Linked DNA regions of Homo sapiens: region 1 is linked to region 2. Evidence: fine-mapped expression QTL. A gene starts in region 2. The other region holds a variant in brackets. All regions are shown on one strand. Distances are from middle to middle.

Region 1 (8,986 bases), 21 kb before region 2:
TATAGAGCACAGGCAGAGTAGATTTAGCATCATTCTTAAGGGCCCTAGAATTTTCAGAATGGTAAATGCGCACTGGCTTCAACTTAAAGTCACCAGCTGCATTAGCCCGTAACAATAGAGTCACCCTGTCCTTTGAAGCTTTGAAAACAGGCATTGCCTTCACCTGTCTAGCTATGAAAGTCCTAGATGGTATCTTCTTCCAACAGAGGGCTGTTTCATCCACATGGAAAATATCTTACTTAGTGTGGCCACCTTCATCAATGACCTTAGCCAGATCTTCTGGATAACTTGCTGCAGCTTCTCCATCAGCACCTGCTGCTTCACCTTGCACTTTTATGTTATGGAGACAGCTTCTTTCCTTAAACCTCATGCATTAACCTCTGCTACCTTCAAGCTTCTTTCTGAAGCTTGCTCACCTCTCTCAGCCTTCACAGAATTGAAGACAAGTAGGGCCTTGCTCTGGATCAGGCTCTGGCTTAAGGGAATGTTGTGGCTGGTTTGACTTTCTATCAAGACCACTCAAACTTTCTCCATATCATCAATAAGGTTGTTTCACTTTCTTATCATTCGTGCGCTCACTGGAGTAGAACTTTTAATTTCCTTCAAGAACTTTTCCTTTGCATTCACAACTGATCTAACTGTCTGGTGCCCATCTTTTGGCCTATCTCAGCTTTTGGCATACCTTTCTCACTAAGTTGAACCATTTCTAGCTTTTGATTTAAAGTAAGAGACAGGACTTTTCATTTCATTTAAACACTTAGAGGCCATTGTAGGCTTATTAACTGGCATAATTTTAATACCTTTGTGTCTCAGGGAATAGAGAGAGAGAGAGGGAATGGCCATTCCATGGAGCAGTGAGAACACACACAACATGTATCGATTAAGTTTGCCATCTTACATAGTCATGGCTCATGGAGCCCCAAAGCAATTACAATAGTAACATCAATGATCACTGATCACAGACCACCATAACAGATATCATAATAATGAAAAAGCTGAAAATATTGCAAGAATTACTAAAATGTGGCACGGAGACATGAAGTGAGCACACGTTCTTGGAAAAATGGCACCGATAGACTTCCTGGGTGCAAGGTTGCCACAAAACTTCAATTTGTGAAAAATCCAATATCTGCAAAGTGCAACAAAGCAGAACCCAATCAAAGGAGGTGTGCTTGTATTTTGAAATGAACATTCATTTGGGAGACTATTCATACATTTATTCATATAATAAAGTCATATAATACATTAAAAATAAAAGAATATTTGGAGGCTTACCTCCTAGTGGTGGAATTGCTGGAACAAAGGGCATGTGCAGCTTTTTCTTTTGTTTTTTTTTTTTTAGATGGAGTCTTGCTCTTTCACCTAGGCTGGACTGTGGGTGCAGTGGTGTTAGCTCACTGCAACCTCGGCCTCCCAGGTTCAAGCAATTCTCCTGCCTCAGCCTCCCAAGTAGCTGGGATTACAGGCACCTGCTACTATGCCCGGCTAATTTTTGAATTTTTAGTACAGATGGGGTTTCGCCATGTTGGCCAGGCTGGTCTTGAACTCCTGACCTCAAGGGATCCACCCACCTTGGCCTCCCAAAGTGCTCGGATTACAGGCGTGAGCCACCATGCCCAGCCACATGTGCATTTTTAATTTGGATGGAAATCTCAAAATTTCCCTCCTAAAATAGAAATTTACATTTTCTTAATTCATTGCCATCACTGAATACAACTGTACTTAAACATTTTTGACCATCTGATAAGTTAAAAAAGTCTCTGATTTTGGTTTGTATTTCTCTGATGGCAGAGGAGGCTGAGTATATTTTCATACATTTATTGGCCTTTTGTATTTTGCATTTGTATTATTGGCCTCCTGTCTGTGCCTTAGGACCCTCCTTTCTATTGGACTGTTCATCTTTTTCTTATTGATTATGAGCTATTTGTAAATCAACAGCATTGGTCTTTTTTCTAGCACTTGTCTGAAAGTATTATTTGGCCATTTTGTTGTTTGCTTTGAACTTGGTCCATGGCATTTTTTTTTAACTCTCACACAAGTTTTAATTTGCTACAGTAATGTTTGTCAATCTATTTGTTTATGGTTTCTGGGCAGACTCATGTCTTCAGAGCTGTCCCTATCCTTGCCAGCAGGTTGAAGGAATTTCCTGGGTGGCTAGGTGACATGGCAGCCACTGGATGTGTCCCCAGGCTCGCCCTCCGCCACCTCCATGTGGAGATGCCGCCCCTCAGAAGATTCAGCAAACACAGCCCCTTGGCCTGCTCCAAGAAGGTGGCTGCCCCGCCTTTCACAGCCAAATTCAGGATGCACCTGGCTTTCGTTTTCCCCTGACATCCAGCTCCTTTTAAGGAGCTATGCATCTTATACGTTTCTTAATCCCCCAACTAAATTTACCAGCTGTTGCTCACAGCCAAGACATCAGCTAAATTAAACTTTGGAGTGGCAAACACGGTGTATCAGATGCACTTCAGTGAGCCATGGTGGGAGCAGCCACGCCCCATCTGTCCTGAGGGCTGGGGGTCATGCTCTCCCTTCCCTCCTGGAATCTGGCCACAGCAGCATCTTCCTTCCCTCAGAAGCACTAGGGTCCCGCCACTGGAGGACCATGGGTGTATTGAGTTACTTCCACCATTGAAAAGATTCTTCCTTTCATTCTACAGGTATTTACTGAGGGCTCAATTATTGACAGGCACTGTTGTGGCAGTGGGGAAACACCTGAGGTTTTCTTTCTCGTGACAGAGAGAAATGAGGAACAAATGAATGTATAATCCACAGTTGAGCAGCAAGAGAGCCTCGGAGCAAGGGAAGCAGATAGAGAGAGAAGTGAGGGTAGGGCTGGGTGTCTCTTCGGACATGGTGGCCGGGGAAGGCCTCTGATGAGGTGACATTTGTGTAGAGACTGGAATGAGGTCCTAGACACAGCCATGTAGGTATCTGGGGGAGAAGGTTCCAAGGCATGTTCTAGAACCAGCAGGGCAACTAGCAGTGAAGGAGGAAGGGCTGGGTGGGAGGAGAGGTGGAGCGAGTTGTGGGAAGATGCTAGCATTCTCCTCCATGTGCTATGGGAAGTGAGTCAAGGTTTGAGAATTGGGAGAAGGGTGAGGTGTTTTCCATCTGAAGTGTGTTTGGTTTGCATTTACCCTCTATGACAGCTTAGGCACAGGAAAGGTCAGACGTGGATTGATGGTGAAAAAGAACTGATGGGCCGGGCGCAGTGGCTCATGCCTGTAATCCTAGCACTTTGAGAGGCCGAGGCAGGCGGATCCCCTGAGGTCAGGAGTTTGAGACCAGCCTGGCCAACGTGATGAAACCCCGTCTCTACCAAAAAAAAAAAAAAAAAGAAAGAAAAAAAATAGCAGGGCATGGTGGTGCATGCCTGTAGTCCCAGCTACTCAGGAGGCTGAGGCAGGAGAATAGCTTGAACCTGGGAGGCGGAGGTTGCAATGAGCCGAGATAGCACCACTGCACTCCAGCCTGTGATGGTGAGAATTCAGGCACCCCAGAGCAGCTCCTGGGGATCCTTTGAGTGAGCAGAGTGGGTATGCCCTATGCTGCTCCTGTCACATATTGGGTTTGTGGGTGAAACTCTCCCTGCTCTGGACACACTCACAAAGCAGGAAGGTCTACCTGGCTGGAACCTGCATCCCTGTTCTCTGGAGGGAGGAAGCCCTTCCCTCACACCTGGACACTCAGGCCCAGCAGGCTCTCTGCTTGGGTCCAGCTGTGACCCTGTGTCCTGCTGCAAGGCCCCAGCTGCTCAGCCTGGCCTCTGAGGACCTGCCGGATTGGCAGGGACTGGCCGTCCTGGGCAGACACCGCAGACTGGGGCTGGCCCTCAGTGCTGAAGGCTCCTGAGTTGAACTGGCCAGCACACCGAGGCTGGCCAAAAGTGCAGCCCAGCACCAGCTTGCGAGGAGGCTCCCAGGAGAAACAATTAGAAAGCATCACAAAACACCTGGC[G/A]GACAACAGGGGCTGGAGAAATGCCAGCTCCTGCTCCAGTCACACACAGGCTCAGGCAGCATAACAGCCGTGAGACACACACGCCACCCAGGTGGTGTTGAAGACAGGCAGGGACCACCTAGGTGGTGTTGAAGACAGGCAGGGACCACCCAGGTGGTGTTGAAGACAGGCAGGGACCAGCCCAGGAGGAGCCTGACCAGTTGCTAACTTGACAACCTTACTCACACACACACACACAGACACACACACACCACACACACACAGACACACACATACACACACACCACCCCCCCACACACACATCACACACACACATACACATACATACACCACACACACACACATACACAGACACACACACACACACTGCCCCCACACACTGCCCACACGCACATACAAACACACAGACATACACCACCCACACACACACACACACACACCACCCCCCCCCCCCACACACACACACCACACACACACAGAGTCGGCTCCATATGAATAGGCTCTGATATGGTTTGGCTGTGTCCCCATCCAAATCTCATCTTGAATTGCAGCTCCCATCATTCCCATGTGTTGTGTGAGAGACCAGTGAGAGATAATTGAATCATGGGGTCGCATCTTTCCCCTGCTATTCTCATGATAGTGAATAAGTCTCACGAGATCTGATGGTTTTGTAAAGGGGAGTTTCCCTGCACAAGTCCTCTTCTCTTGTCTGCCTCCATATGAGATGTGCCTTTCACCTTCTGACATGATTCTGAGGGCTCCCAGCCATGTGGAACTGTGAGTCCAATAAACCTCTTTCTTTTGTAAATTGTCCAGTCTCAGGTATGTCTTTATCAGCAGTGTGAAAATGGACTAATACAGGCCCCATCACTCATTTCTGCAGAGTAAGGGCCCTGAGGCCCAAATATCACTCCCAGGATTCCATTGTTAAGCCCCAATTCCACCATTAAATTCCACTTGGATCACAGATGCTGCACATACACAACCATGGCCAAGCCTCTCAATTTTATGTTTATTGAACATGCAGAACAGCAGACATCACTAAAAAGGCGTCTCAGTCATGCCCAGTGTTCCAGTAAATTGGAGGTAGAAATTATGCCAATCAGAAAAAATACTGCCTTTTTGGCAATCACCAAATCACTAAAGCTTTATGTGTGTAGTCGTACTATTGGAGCATCTGCAGATGTCACACATGTAAATGCAACATGGTGGTCAATTAGAAAATCAACTCAATGTTTCTTTTAACAGATTCCTTAAGCTTCCTACATAAATCTCACTCCAAATTAACATTAGCTTTCCAAAGAGAAAAGAGCATTCTGTGACCATTTCCACTGCAATTTAATTCTTTTTTAGTTCTCAGAATGATGGCAAGGCCATCAGGAGTGAGGATGATGGCTCAGCATTTTTGGGGCCTCCTGAATATATCAAAGGGAGAAGCTAGAGGTTAAAACAGCCCTCAAAAGAGGAGCCTGTCATGTCAAAGGAATGTGCAGGAAGGCTGAGCAGAATTAATTTCCTCCTGGTATAAAATATTCCTTCTGATCATAAATAAATCTGCTCAGAAGTAACTCCAGCAAACCACGAAACTGTTTCGAGGGGGCTAAGTGGCAAATCACAGCTTTGATGGTGACAAAAGAGAAAGAAAGTGAGATCACTAGATTCAACTTTGTCCTTTCCTTGCATTCTTCAAAAGCAAAATCCCCAGCCTCCCTCCTCATCTCCCCCCACCCAAGAACTGCACATTTCTCATGGCCTAATATGAACAAAACGGTTTATGACCAGATGAGCAGACAGCCAGATAACTCTAAGGAAGAAAGAGGGCAGAAAGGCTAAGATGAAGACACAGGGTGGAGAAACTCTGCCTGGCTCCAGCTGCCTCTCTCACGTCCACCATCCTGCATCTGGCAACAGGAGTTCCCCAGTTGTCACGGGGGATGCTCCAGCTGAAAGGGTCCAGGAGCTATAGGACAATAGGACGTTACAGGCCTCTTCTTCCCACCTTGGAGAGAAGGCTCAATGAAAGAATCTTGTTTGCCTTTTATTTTTCCATTGTGTATTTCTTTTTTTTTTTTTTTTTTTTTGAGACAGAGTCTCGCCCGGTCACCCAGGCTAGAGTGCAGTGGCACAATCTCGGCTCACTGCAACCTCCACCTCCTGGGTACAAGCGATTCTCCTGCCTCAGCCTCCCGAGTAGCTGGGATTACAGGCTCATGCCACCATGCCCAGCTAATTTTTGTATTTTTAGTACAGATGGGGTTTCACCATGTTGACCAGGCTGGTCTTGAACTCCTGACCTCAGATAATCTGCCCACTTCAGCGTCCCAAAGGGCTGGGATTACAGGGGTGATCCACAGTGCATTTCTTGAATGTATTTGGCCATGGAATGCTCTATTCATCAAACATCTGTAACGGTCTGTTATAATGCAATTATTTCCATCTCAGTTTTAGCTGAGGGTCTATGATAAGAGCTGCCACCTGTTCTCACATTCCAAAGTGAGATTCCAGTCCCTGAAACTTGCGTGATTGTTTGTTACTGCAGCACAACTGAGTCCATGCGGACTGATACAGATGAGCACCAGACACGAGCCTTGCCCATCAGACACTGTTGCCTGCATATTTCAAACGGGACATTTTTTTCTTAAAGGGCCAGATAGCAAACAGGTTTTGTGGGCCATGGCTCATTTGGCCACAGACTATAGTTTGCTAAGCCCTGTTCTAGACCCCTCATGCTGGACTTGCAAAGGAGAAGGTAAAAAACCAGTTTCATGGCTCTTGGCTTTTCATGCATTGGAAGGTATAAAAGGGTTAAAATTGCAGAGGTAGAGAAGTCGAAGTATGCAGGTTGTTCTTTAGAGAGAGCTCTTGGGGTACTATGATCCCCAACCCTAAAGAGAAACTGTTAGGTGTAGTTCAATGGTCTATTACCATGGAAAACCCACCCTAAACATCAATCTTCAATGGTAGATTATCTGTAAGGACTCTTCAGGTTGGTAGCCGGATAGTCGCTTTGCTGCTGCTGGTGCCATCTGGGGTCACTCATATGACTGCACTCAGCTAGGATTTTGGCTGCCACTGGAAGCTCAAGGTGGTGACACGTCCCCCTTTCCCACCACAGGTTCCCCTCACACCAGGCTCCAGCTAGGCCAGGGGCAAAGCTTTACCTCTGAACAGAGTTTGGGGTTTTGATTATTAAACAAGACTGGACATGCTAGTTATCTAACTGACAGATATGTGTGGCCACCAGCACGGAAAGCTTTTTATTACCTGAGTAAAAAGATTTCCTCCAGGACTAGGGAAAGGACTAGACCTACAACATCAGAGCCAGGGCAGGGGGAGGTACATTACTTTCTGGTTATCCCCATTCAGTTGATGTGACACTTATCACATTTCCCAAGCAATGTCTCTGGAATAGAAATAGGTACATATTTAAGTAACCATATGGAAATAGGTACATATTTAAGTACGCATGTGTACCTACTTCCATTCCAGAGACATTGCTGGGAAAAGACGCTCAGGGAAAATTAGGATGTGCTGGAGCCTCTAACACCAGCAGACGCTGGTTCTCATGGTGGTGTGTGAGCTCTCATTTCTTGCTCCATCTATGAGACTCTACTCCCACACCCTGTGGACAAGGTACAAGTCCACATACCTGTACGACGATATGGTGGCTCATTGCACAGGATTTGAGGTCAAAAAAATCAATGTTCTGGCCAGGCTTGATTGCTGGCGCCTGTAATCCCAGCACTTTGGGAGGATCGCTTGAGCTCGAGTTCAAGACCAGCCTAGGCAACATAGCAAGACCCCATTTCTACAAATAAAATAAAATAAAATAAAATAAAATAAAAACCTAGGTTTACATCCTAACGATTTTCCAATTATTATCCATGGGATCTGTAATAATTCATGTTTCCTCTGAACTTTAGTTTTCTTATCCATAAACTGGGGATAATGATGTCTCCCTTACAGGGTTGTTAGGAGAATGAAATGAGATAATCATGCAAAGCATTCAGCTGGTGTGGAGGAAATCCTTGTCACCATGTCAGTGTCTAATGCTATAAATGGGGAGAACCGCATCTGTTTGGAATTGCTGTATACACACATATTCTGCTCAGGAAAGCCATCAGCAGAAGCTGCTAACATTGGCTGCCTTTGGGGAGGGAAGCGCGTGGCTGAGAAGAGGCAAGAGGAAGACTTTTCACTGTTTAACTCTTGTACCTTTTGAATTTTGAAGCATATAAATGTATTAATTATTCTAAACATAAACTTAAACTTAAAATCTTTCTAATATTTTATTATGAAAGTTTTCAAACCTACAGAAAAGTTGAAAGAATTTTAAAATGAGCACCATGTACCCACTGCTGTGGATTGGCCATGACCATTCTACTATACTAGTTTTATCTCATATCTATTAAATTTTTAAAATAAAATGAGCCTATCTCTGAGGTCTAGGGAAGTTTCTTTACTTATTAGGGTCTGTATGTTCCCTCTGTGAAATGCGAAATGTGGGGTATTATCCCTGTTACTTACCACACCCAGGGTAAATCTGAGTGGGCTGTTGGCTGTCTTGCCTATATGTCATGAGCATCCCTTGGGGTGGCTTCCTGGCTTAAAACAGTCCTCTCTCTCTCTCTCTCTTTTTTGAGACTGGGTCTCACTCTGTCACCCAGGCTGGAGTACAGTGGTGTGATCTCAGCTCACTGCAACCTCCACCTCCCAGGTTCAAGTGATCCTCCTGCCTCAGCCTCCCGTGTAGCTGTGATTACAGGCACACACCACCACACCCGGCTAATTTTCTTATTTTTAGTAGAGACGTGGTTTCACCATGTTGGCCAGGCTGGTCTTGAACTCCTGACCTCAGATGATCCACCCGCCTCGGCCTCCCAAAATGGTGGGATTACAGGTGTGAGCCACCGTGCCTGGCCCAGTTCTCTCTCCTTGAAAACAACCCCACCACACGTGTGAACTCCAAGTGGCTACAGGTGCACCACAGCCTCGTCCCCCTCCAACTTCACCCCTGGCAGTAACC
Region 2 (8,986 bases):
CCACAGTAGGTGCTGCTCCCGTCTTCCGGTCTTATTCTGGAAGCAGGATAGTGTGGTAGAAAGGAGCAAGTGCTTTGGAGTCAGAGAACCGGGGCTGAAATCCTACCTCCATTCTGTGATCTTAGGCAAGTTGCCCAATCTCTCTGAGCCTTGTTCTTCCATCATTAGTAAAAAAGAGAGGGTTTTGCCTACCTCTTAAGGGGATACAAGAATCAAAGTGCGATGCTGTGCACACAGAACCCAGCACACTGTTCAACAAACAAGTGTAATTATTTTCCCAGGCCCCAGCCAGCGATCTTCCTCAAGGGTTCATCCTCAAGGTTCTCCTGCATCCCGGCTCCCTGAGCTCAGCCATGCCCACGACTTGACGAGATCAACTCCTTGACTTCTCTGATGACAAAGCCCCCAGGGTCCAGCCCTGACCTCACTCCAGAGTTCAGACACATCTCCGCCAGGGTGTCCTTCAGGTCCCCTAAACCCAGCATCAGCTCTTGGCTCTTCCACTACTCTCTGGGGGATTTGGGTAAGTCACCCTGGCCTTGGTTTCTTCATCTATAACATGATGTCATTTGTAGAAGTTTGTAGCCGATCACCACGGAGGCTGTCCCAGCCCTAACATCCTAGGATTCAACACCACTTACTCTATCATCCCTTCGACTGAGCACTACCTCCTCCCTACACTCCCTGCCTTCAAAGTCAACACCTTCCTTCTTCAGCAAACCCCACCTTGAATATTTAGGGTCAGCTTGGATTTGTCCCTCTTGTTCATGCCACAGCCCCAATTCTGGAAGCTTCTCTCCAAGAGGTGCTCCCCTATCTGCACACTCCTTCCTGTTGCCACCACCAGCAACCTAGCTCAGGCCCCAGCACCACACCTCAAGGAGGCCCCAGTCCCAGCTTCCCCCATGCAGCCTGCCCTCGGCCCTTTCTATCCATGGAGCTTCCAAACAGCCTTTGCATGGAGCCTGGGATTCCTCGTGTCACTGTGAAGAACTAGACCCCACCATTGACAATCTTCGTGCCCTGGAGATTCTTTTCAGGTTAGGGATGAGGAGAGGAACATTTCATGGTGGTCAGATTAGATATTCACTACGTATTTATTGAATTCATTTGGTCATTCATGCTTCTCAAAACACATCCCTCAGCTGGTCCTCTCCAATCCAAAACAGACAATGTCAGAGATCTCTTTGCAAATCATGAAGGGCTTGGGCCTTTGTGCCTCAATGTCACACGCATACAATTTCAGGGGGTCCATCTTCCCCTCGCCCTAGACCATCTATAGGGCACAGTTTACCTCTGATTGAGCTCATGTTACAGGTGGAAAGACTGAGAAAGAGAGAGGAAGGGACTTGTCTGAGAATATGCGGAACATTTCCTTCTACCAGGCACTAGATCCTCGCACAAAAGTGCTGAGTCCGCTCCCAACCCCAGGCCCGTGGCTTTGAGCAGCAGGTCACTTAACATCTAACGTCTTTATGCTGTTTCCTCATCTGTGCGAGAGCAGCTATGTCTACCTGGCAAGGCTGTAGTGAGAGATCATATCAGCATAGGAATGGGGCTCAGCCCCATGCACAGAGGACAGTTCTTGTTTCATTCTTTTCCTTGCTGTTTCTCTTCCTTTCCTGGCAGAATATGGAGGAAGGAAGCATCGCTGCCATCTACAGTGGTCACGGAAGGCTTCATGGAAGAGGCGAGCCCTGCCTGGGCCTCAATTTTGGGTGCTGGAGGGAAGCAGGGGCCAAGAGTTATTAATAGTCTTGGCCTGATGGGCCCAGGGAGGCTGAATGTGATACAGACACCCAGCACCACGGTTGGGGAGTACCTGACACCGGAAGGGGAGGGGGCCGGGGCTACGGGGAGTGCCACCTCCCAAAATAGCCAGAGCAGAAGCCTATATAGGTGGCCATCCCACCTCCAGGCTCACTTCCCGACAGGACTTCCCACCAGCCCAGCCTTTCAGTGCAGGCTCCAGCCCTCCACCCCCACCCGAGGTGAGTGGCAGCTACCGAGGTTGGAGGATAGAGGGATGCAGCAGGATGAGCCAGCTGGAAGGGAGAGCTACATCTCCCCTGTCCGTAGTGACCCGGGGAGGGGGGTGCGGTGGGGGTGCTGGAGGCAGGGCAGCTGTGGAATGTAGGGCTGAGAGCATGCATTCCTGCTTCTCCACCCAGACTCCTGGTGTGGCCTGGGGCAAACTCCCCCCACCCACCGCCCCCCGTGGCTGGGCCTCAGATTCCCCAGCCTTAGAACGAGAGGGCTGGAGTCAGACATCTGTGGACTCTGGTGATGCCATCAGAGAGGACCCAGAGGGCAGAGGAGGACTACCCAGGGCTGATGGGCTGACCTAATGACATTGATGCTCTGGCTGGGAGGGCTCAGTCCCGGAGGGGGTGTCAAGTTGATAGGAGAACTCAGCAGCAGGGAGAGATGGAGGAAGGAGATGGAAGAAGAGTGGGCCCCTGTTGAGGCTGCAGCCTTTGCCACAGGGTAGCTGCTTAGGGGCTCACCAGGAGCCAGTGTGTGGCTGAGATGTATGGGACCTGATAGAGCTGGGTCCCAGGCACCAGGGAGGATCACCCAGAGAGTCACTGAACTCCACACGAGTGAGTCCAGGGGTGTACCCTGCTCTGCTATTGCTTTACCATGTGTCCTTAGACCATTCACGGACTCTGTGCCTCCGTTTCTCCACTGGTATAGCTGAAGCGTCCTTCAGCTGGGGAAATCCATTCTCCAACTAGGCTCCTGGAGTGAGCTGAGCCTGGGAGTTGAAATGATAGCATAGGAGCCTGGCATATCTGAGTCAGCAGCCCAGCTGGGGACAAGGTGCAGAGGTGACGGCAGTAGCAGCAGGGTCCAGGGCAGCTGAGGGGTCCTGGGAAGTCCTGGAGCTGAGAGGCATCAGGTCAGGAGCTGCATCCTTGGTGCCTTGGAAGCCATCTGGCGGGCTGTGGCTTGAAGGAGCTGACTCACAGGGAGGGGGCAGCTGGAGCCAGCAGAGGTATCCTAAGGTTTCCAGGAAGGGCAGCCATCCAGGGCTGAGCTGCAGGAGACAATGTTGACAGCGATGTCAGGGAACTTGAGTTACTGGGCAGCTGGACAGCTGCTCTCCCTGGTCCCCACCACCCAGGGCCACCACAGCCCAAGGCCCTGCCTACCTGCCAATACCTTAAGTTGCAGTCCCCAGGTCCCACTACATGGGACCACTGACGTCATCAACACATCAGAAGGAGACAGAAGCCCAGAGAAGGTCACAACCCAAGGTCACACTGGGACTTAGTGCAGCCCAGGATCTAGAACCCAGGCCTCCTGACTCCCTGTCCAGCGCTCACACACTCTAGAAGCAGCTGGTTGCAGCTTGAAACCTTGGGAACCATGGGGAAGAACACAACGGGTCTCTGGCTGCATACAGATAGGCACCGTGACATTTTTCCAGAGGTGAAGTTCAGACCCCTACACCTGCTTAGGTTGTCTAGAAAGTGTGGTCTGAAGGTGCTACCCTTCTTCCAAACACATATGGGGCTTTCTGGGAGGGAGCATAGCAATTCCAAGCGGACTCTCCCACCCTACTCTGCCCAAAAAAGGTTTATAGGAGTAGGGGGAGTCTGGACCCATGATGCCAGGACCCAGGAGACCAGGAAAGCAAGTAGTTAGTAGAGATCTGAGAAGTGTTCTTCGAAAAATCAAGCCAGCAAAAAAATAAAAAATAAAAGTAAAACATCAAATCAGGTTTTAGAATATGCATCCCTGGCCAGATGTGGGATGGGGCACCCGAAGTGGGCCCCAGCAGCTCCTGCCTGTCCCTGTCCCTGTCCCTGCCACCTCCTCCCTGCGTCGGGTGGGTCAGGTTTCAGGACCTCAGCGCTCAGATTTTGCAGCATAAATTTGCATCCAGGACAGACCAGAGCAGAGGCTGAGGTAGGAGTGGAGAGAGAAAGGGAGCAGGGCCTAGGAGGTCCTGAGGTGCAGGCTGGCCGCTGAAGGTTCAGGATCTTCCCCCACGCGGCAGGACATCCGCCAAGGTTCCCAGATCTGAGACGGCGCACCTCCTGCGTGTCCTTGACGGCAGGTGGACTTTCCAGACCCAGCTGGTGACGCCAGTGCCCCCTAAATCCCAGAGGTGGCCCCTTCCCTCGTGCCCTGGCCGCAGCCCCTGGGATCCCGCGGACCCCTGGCCTGGCGGTGCAGGAGTGGTAGCAGGTCCGCGCGCCTTCTTGCCGGCGGCCGGCGCTGCTCAGCGGCGCGGCTGGACTGAGCCGCTCCCGCTGCGCTCAGAGTCCGGGCCCCTGGCGCCATGCCAGGCCCGGCGGGCGTGCGCCCGGCGCGCAGCACTGCAGCGCTGGTCATATGAGCAGAAATGATGAGAAAAGCACTTTTTAATCTTTTCGCACTTGCTCTGCCCGCTCAAACAGTTGCAGGATGTCGATGACAGACTTGCTGAACGCTGAGGACATCAAGAAGGCGGTGGGAGCCTTTAGCGGTGAGCAAGCGCGCTCCCCTCCCCATCCCTCTCCCCTCGTCCACCGCCCGCGCCCCTGCACTCCGCCGGCCCCGCAGCCGGCGGATCCTCCCCAGCGCGCTTCTGCCCACACTTCCCGCTGGGCGCCGGCGAGGTCGGGGCGGGGGCGTCCTTGGCAGTTCCCAAACTCTGTCCGGGCGAGGCTTGGCGCGGGGAGCGGGCGGGGAAGAGGGCGCCCCGCCTAAGTTACAGAAACTTGAGGGTGCTGAAGGCCCGGTGGCTGGGAGGACTCAGGGTCCGGGACCAAGGGCGAAGACCAGGGTCGGAGGAGAGACCTCCAGGGTCCTTGTACGAGCTCTCTGGACGTCCTCTTTAAGGCACTTAGAGGGGACTGCAGGGGGCATCCTCCTCTCCAAGAGACCCCTTTCCTGGACCCTCATTCTGGACAGGACTTTTCCCGCCAGGCGGTAGCCTTTGTTGGCCCCCTGACTGTCCTAGTTCCTTTACTGAGATTCAGCAACGGACCTGCGGGCGAGGTGACCTTCTGGAGCCGGCGCACAGCTCTGCCTAAGCCCGCACGGGGCATCCTCAGTGCCTCAAACCTCCAGCCTCCTTAGGCGGGCAGGGGAGGGGAACTGGCAGTCTCACCTCTCCCAGCTGCCCGGGACTTCAGCGCTAAGCTGCCCGCCTTCCTCCTCCCCTGTCCTCCAGATGGGGAAATCAGGGAACTGTCTTGGAGAGGACAAGACATTTGCCCAAGGTCACCTAGCTGGGCAGAAGGGGTATTAGAACTGGGTTGCCCAGCCTAGTGTCGGAGGTGGACAGGGCAACTTTCCTTGTCTCTAGCCCTGTGCTGAGGGGAAGAGAACATGACTTCAACAGCCATTCCCTACACACACACACACACACACACACACACAAAATACATGATCTAACATTGTACCCTTCCCCAGGTGTTCTAAAACAGGACCCCAAGATACAGAAAATTGCAGGTAGAAAAGGACCCCCATTTCCTTTCTGCTTTGCACCCCCTCCCCTGGGCACAAGAACCTCTCTGGGAAGCCACCCTCCCAGGGTCCTGGGATAACCCTCTCCCTTCACCTCAAGCCCATGTGGGAAGAAACTTAACTGGGTGTTTCTCGGGAGCCTCCTAACACCCCCTTCCCACTGCCTCCGAAGTGGATTTCTGCGCAGAGCCAGGACTTCCGGGTTTGCCCCTCCTCCTCCCACTGTATGACCTTGAGGGAAACCTGTCCTTTCTATGTCAATTTTCTGGCAACAAAGTCTGTGGCCAAGAAAGAAGGTCAACCCTCCTCCCCCTAACCCCAGGACCATGTTCATGCCCCCTTCAATTCCCCAGCCCACTCCCAACCAGCTGGCACTCAAAAGTCTTCCTGGGCACAAGGTTCTCAGAAGAACAAAAGCCTTTGGTTCTTAGGTGCTGCTCCCATCATCAGCAATGGGTGCAGTGGAGGTGGGGCGTGGGGGCGGGCTTGAGAGCCAGGGAGGTCTGGGTTTGAGCACACCTCTTCCACTCCCAGCCTTGTGACCTTGGACAGGTTATCCTCCCTTGCCCGGGCTCCCTCAGCCCTCCAATGGAGGTGGGTACCTCTCATTCCCCATGACTGGCATGTGGGAATCCATCAACAAATGCCTTGATGCCCCCCATTCTCCCAGGCTTCCCTACCAGCCTTTCTGGTCCTTGTTTGACCCTGCTCTTCCCCCCACAGCTACCGACTCCTTCGACCACAAAAAGTTCTTCCAAATGGTCGGCCTGAAGAAAAAGAGTGCGGATGATGTGAAGAAGGTGTTTCACATGCTGGACAAGGACAAAAGTGGCTTCATCGAGGAGGATGAGCTGGGGTAAGCGGAGGCCTGCAGGGGCTGCCCAGCCCACGGCTGCACGAGAGGGAGTGGGGGCTGGGACTCTAGCTTCCAAGTGTCCATCAGACCTGCCTTTCACTCTGCCTGCTTCACAGAAAGTAACCGTGCGTGAAGGCAGGGCTCCGACCCAGGGCACCAGGGGAGAAGGCTTCCTGGTGCTATTGCTTCGGAAGAGTAAAACCCTCAGCTGAAAGTGCAACTAACTAGGTTAAATGATAGCCACTTAATATTGCTAATGGAATGTTGCTACTTAATAATTTAATGCAAATGAAGAGGCAGTTTTCTTGCTGCCTAACACCATAGGCAGGGCAGAAAGCATTCACTTGAGTATTTCATTGATTTTCATTTGTCTAAAAGACACTTTCCACCTTCCTGCAGCCCCCAGCCCTCTGGTACTAGTGTGGCTGGTGCAATTTCTAGGCAAGCCAGGGATGCAGAACCACCTCTGAGAGTCCAGGGGTCCTTGGAGAAAAGCAGAGAAGGAGAAGGCTGTGGCTAGGAAAATGCATGCCTCCATCTGCAAAAGCATCTCCCACCATAATTCCCTCAGCCACCCGGCCATGTCTACTGACTCAGGTTGCCTTATGTCACTTTCTGGCCAAGAAAGCCTTGAGTTTTGTCAAAAAGAGAAGCGGGGGGTGGGTGTAGGGAGAGGCCTTTCAAGTAGGGACTTCCCCACCCATCCTGTCTCTCCCCTAAACCATCTCACAAGGGTACCTTCTGTCTAGAATCTTCACGTTCTACCCACTTACATCCAACATGCATGCACACTTATGCACACACACACACACACACACACACACACACACACACTCACAGAGGCTGACTTCCCCCTGTCCTCCAGGTATCACCTTCACCAGGAAGCCTCCCCTCTCCTCCCCTCACCGCAGGTGGGCAGATACAGCTTCTGAGTGCCCTCCTCCACGGCCCATCACACTGTGTGGTCTCTCTCGGAGCCCGTGACCTCCTTATTTTTTCCAGTGCCTTCCGAAGATCACCACTGTGACCCCACTTTCCAGCATACGCCAGACACAGAAATGACACTTAGTGAATACTTGTTGGATAAATTAACGAATGTAGGTGCCCTCCCTGAAGTGAGGACAACCCTTCACTGAGGACAGCCTGTCCTTTCCTAAATACTCACCCACGAAAGCACAGCCACCGAGCAGGCTACCTGGCCCAGAGCATCCGTGTGCGTGACTGCTGCTCGCTGCCTGTCCCAGCCATCCCTTTCCCCATACAGAAACCAGACCACCCTCCATCCAGCGTCCTGCAAGGCGACCTCGGCCTGACTCCCTCACCGGCTTTCTCCCTTTTCTCCTCCAGATTCATCCTAAAAGGCTTCTCCCCAGATGCCAGAGACCTGTCTGCTAAAGAAACCAAGATGCTGATGGCTGCTGGAGACAAAGATGGGGACGGCAAAATTGGGGTTGACGGTGGGTAGCCGTGACCTGGGGTCTGGGCATATTGTGGATCTTGGGGTGTTGGATGCGAAAAGTTTGAAGCTATGTCTGTCACAAGGAAGGGATGATATGGGGGTCCCTCACTCCCCCAGATTAGAAGACAAAAAGCAGTCCATTAGGTCTGAGAGCTCTGCCACATACTCCAGACAAAGGAAAACTGGTGTATTTTCCTAATTTGAAAACCTAAAAGGAATAGATTCTGTTTTTCCTGCTGGGTAGGGGATCCAGGAGGATTTGGGATTTTTTTTTCCTGAACTCTGCCTGCATTTTTGCATGGATACTGGCCCAACCTCTGCCCAAACTGGCTGTGTGACCTTGGGCAGTGTCTCTCGATCGCTGGGCCTCTGTCTCCCATCTCTAATCCAACGAAATGAGGCCGACTAATCCCCAAGGATCCTCTGCCTCTCACATCCTCAGATTCCAGGGATGGAAATTCCTATCTCCTGTCCTCCTCAGCATCTTGTCCTGGTGTCCTGTAACCCCAAGTCTCAAAACCTGTTTGGGTTTTACTCAAATATACTATTCTAGCCTTGCAGCAGAGCCAGGAAAAACAGTAAACCAGAAATCAGTGGGGAATTCAGACAGGGAATACCTGGCCCTGCCTTGCTTTGCAGGCTTCAATGTCAGCACAGGTGAGAGACCAGTGGCCCACCGTCCACTCCTTTCTCCATTTGGCTCTGTGTGGCATTCATGGAGCACACCCACATTGCTATCTCTCTTAGCTTATGATTTTCTCCGGAATTATCTCCATTTTGCAGGTGGGCAAATGGACTTTGAAGGTGCTTAGCCTAGTTGAAAGAGCTAGGACATAGCGGTGGAGTGGGGATTTAGAACCAGGCCTGAATGAGTGTTTGCAACATACTAAGCTGCCATTTGTTCCCATAATAGGCTTTTCTGCTGGTCTCAGAGAAAACTGTGTGTAGGTGTTTGGCCTCTGGGCCCCAGGCTATCTGGGTTCAAATCCCAGCCCTACCACTTTCGAGCTGTGTGACCTTGCGTAATTTGATAACTACTCTGAGCCTCTGTTTTCTCATCTCTGAACTGAATAGAATGATAATTCTTACAGGGTGATTACAAGGGTTAGATGTGTTAATATGTAAAGTGCCTAGAACAGTGTCTGGCACAGAGTAAATGTTATATATGTATTTGTTAGCTAATTTTTTTAAAACTAGGTCCCTTCGCA

What was found. PIP is the estimated chance that this variant, and not a neighbour inherited with it, causes the effect.
Region 1: its variant is the best candidate, but not a certain one, in a credible set for the expression of PVALB in lung (TOPMed, PIP 0.56).

The regions. Positions count from the first base shown.
Region 1 is chr22:36,833,626-36,842,611 of GRCh38, reverse strand. No RefSeq gene overlaps it. Among named protein-coding and RNA genes, the nearest start is that of PVALB, 21 kb to the right of the region's middle. The variant G/A (reference allele first, on the strand shown) is at 3,961.
Region 2 is chr22:36,812,436-36,821,421 of GRCh38, reverse strand. PVALB (parvalbumin) reads left to right here and starts at 4,387. Exons shown (of 4, transcript NM_001315532.2): 1 at 4,387-4,477; 2 at 6,187-6,319; 3 at 7,667-7,776. The coding sequence starts at 4,417.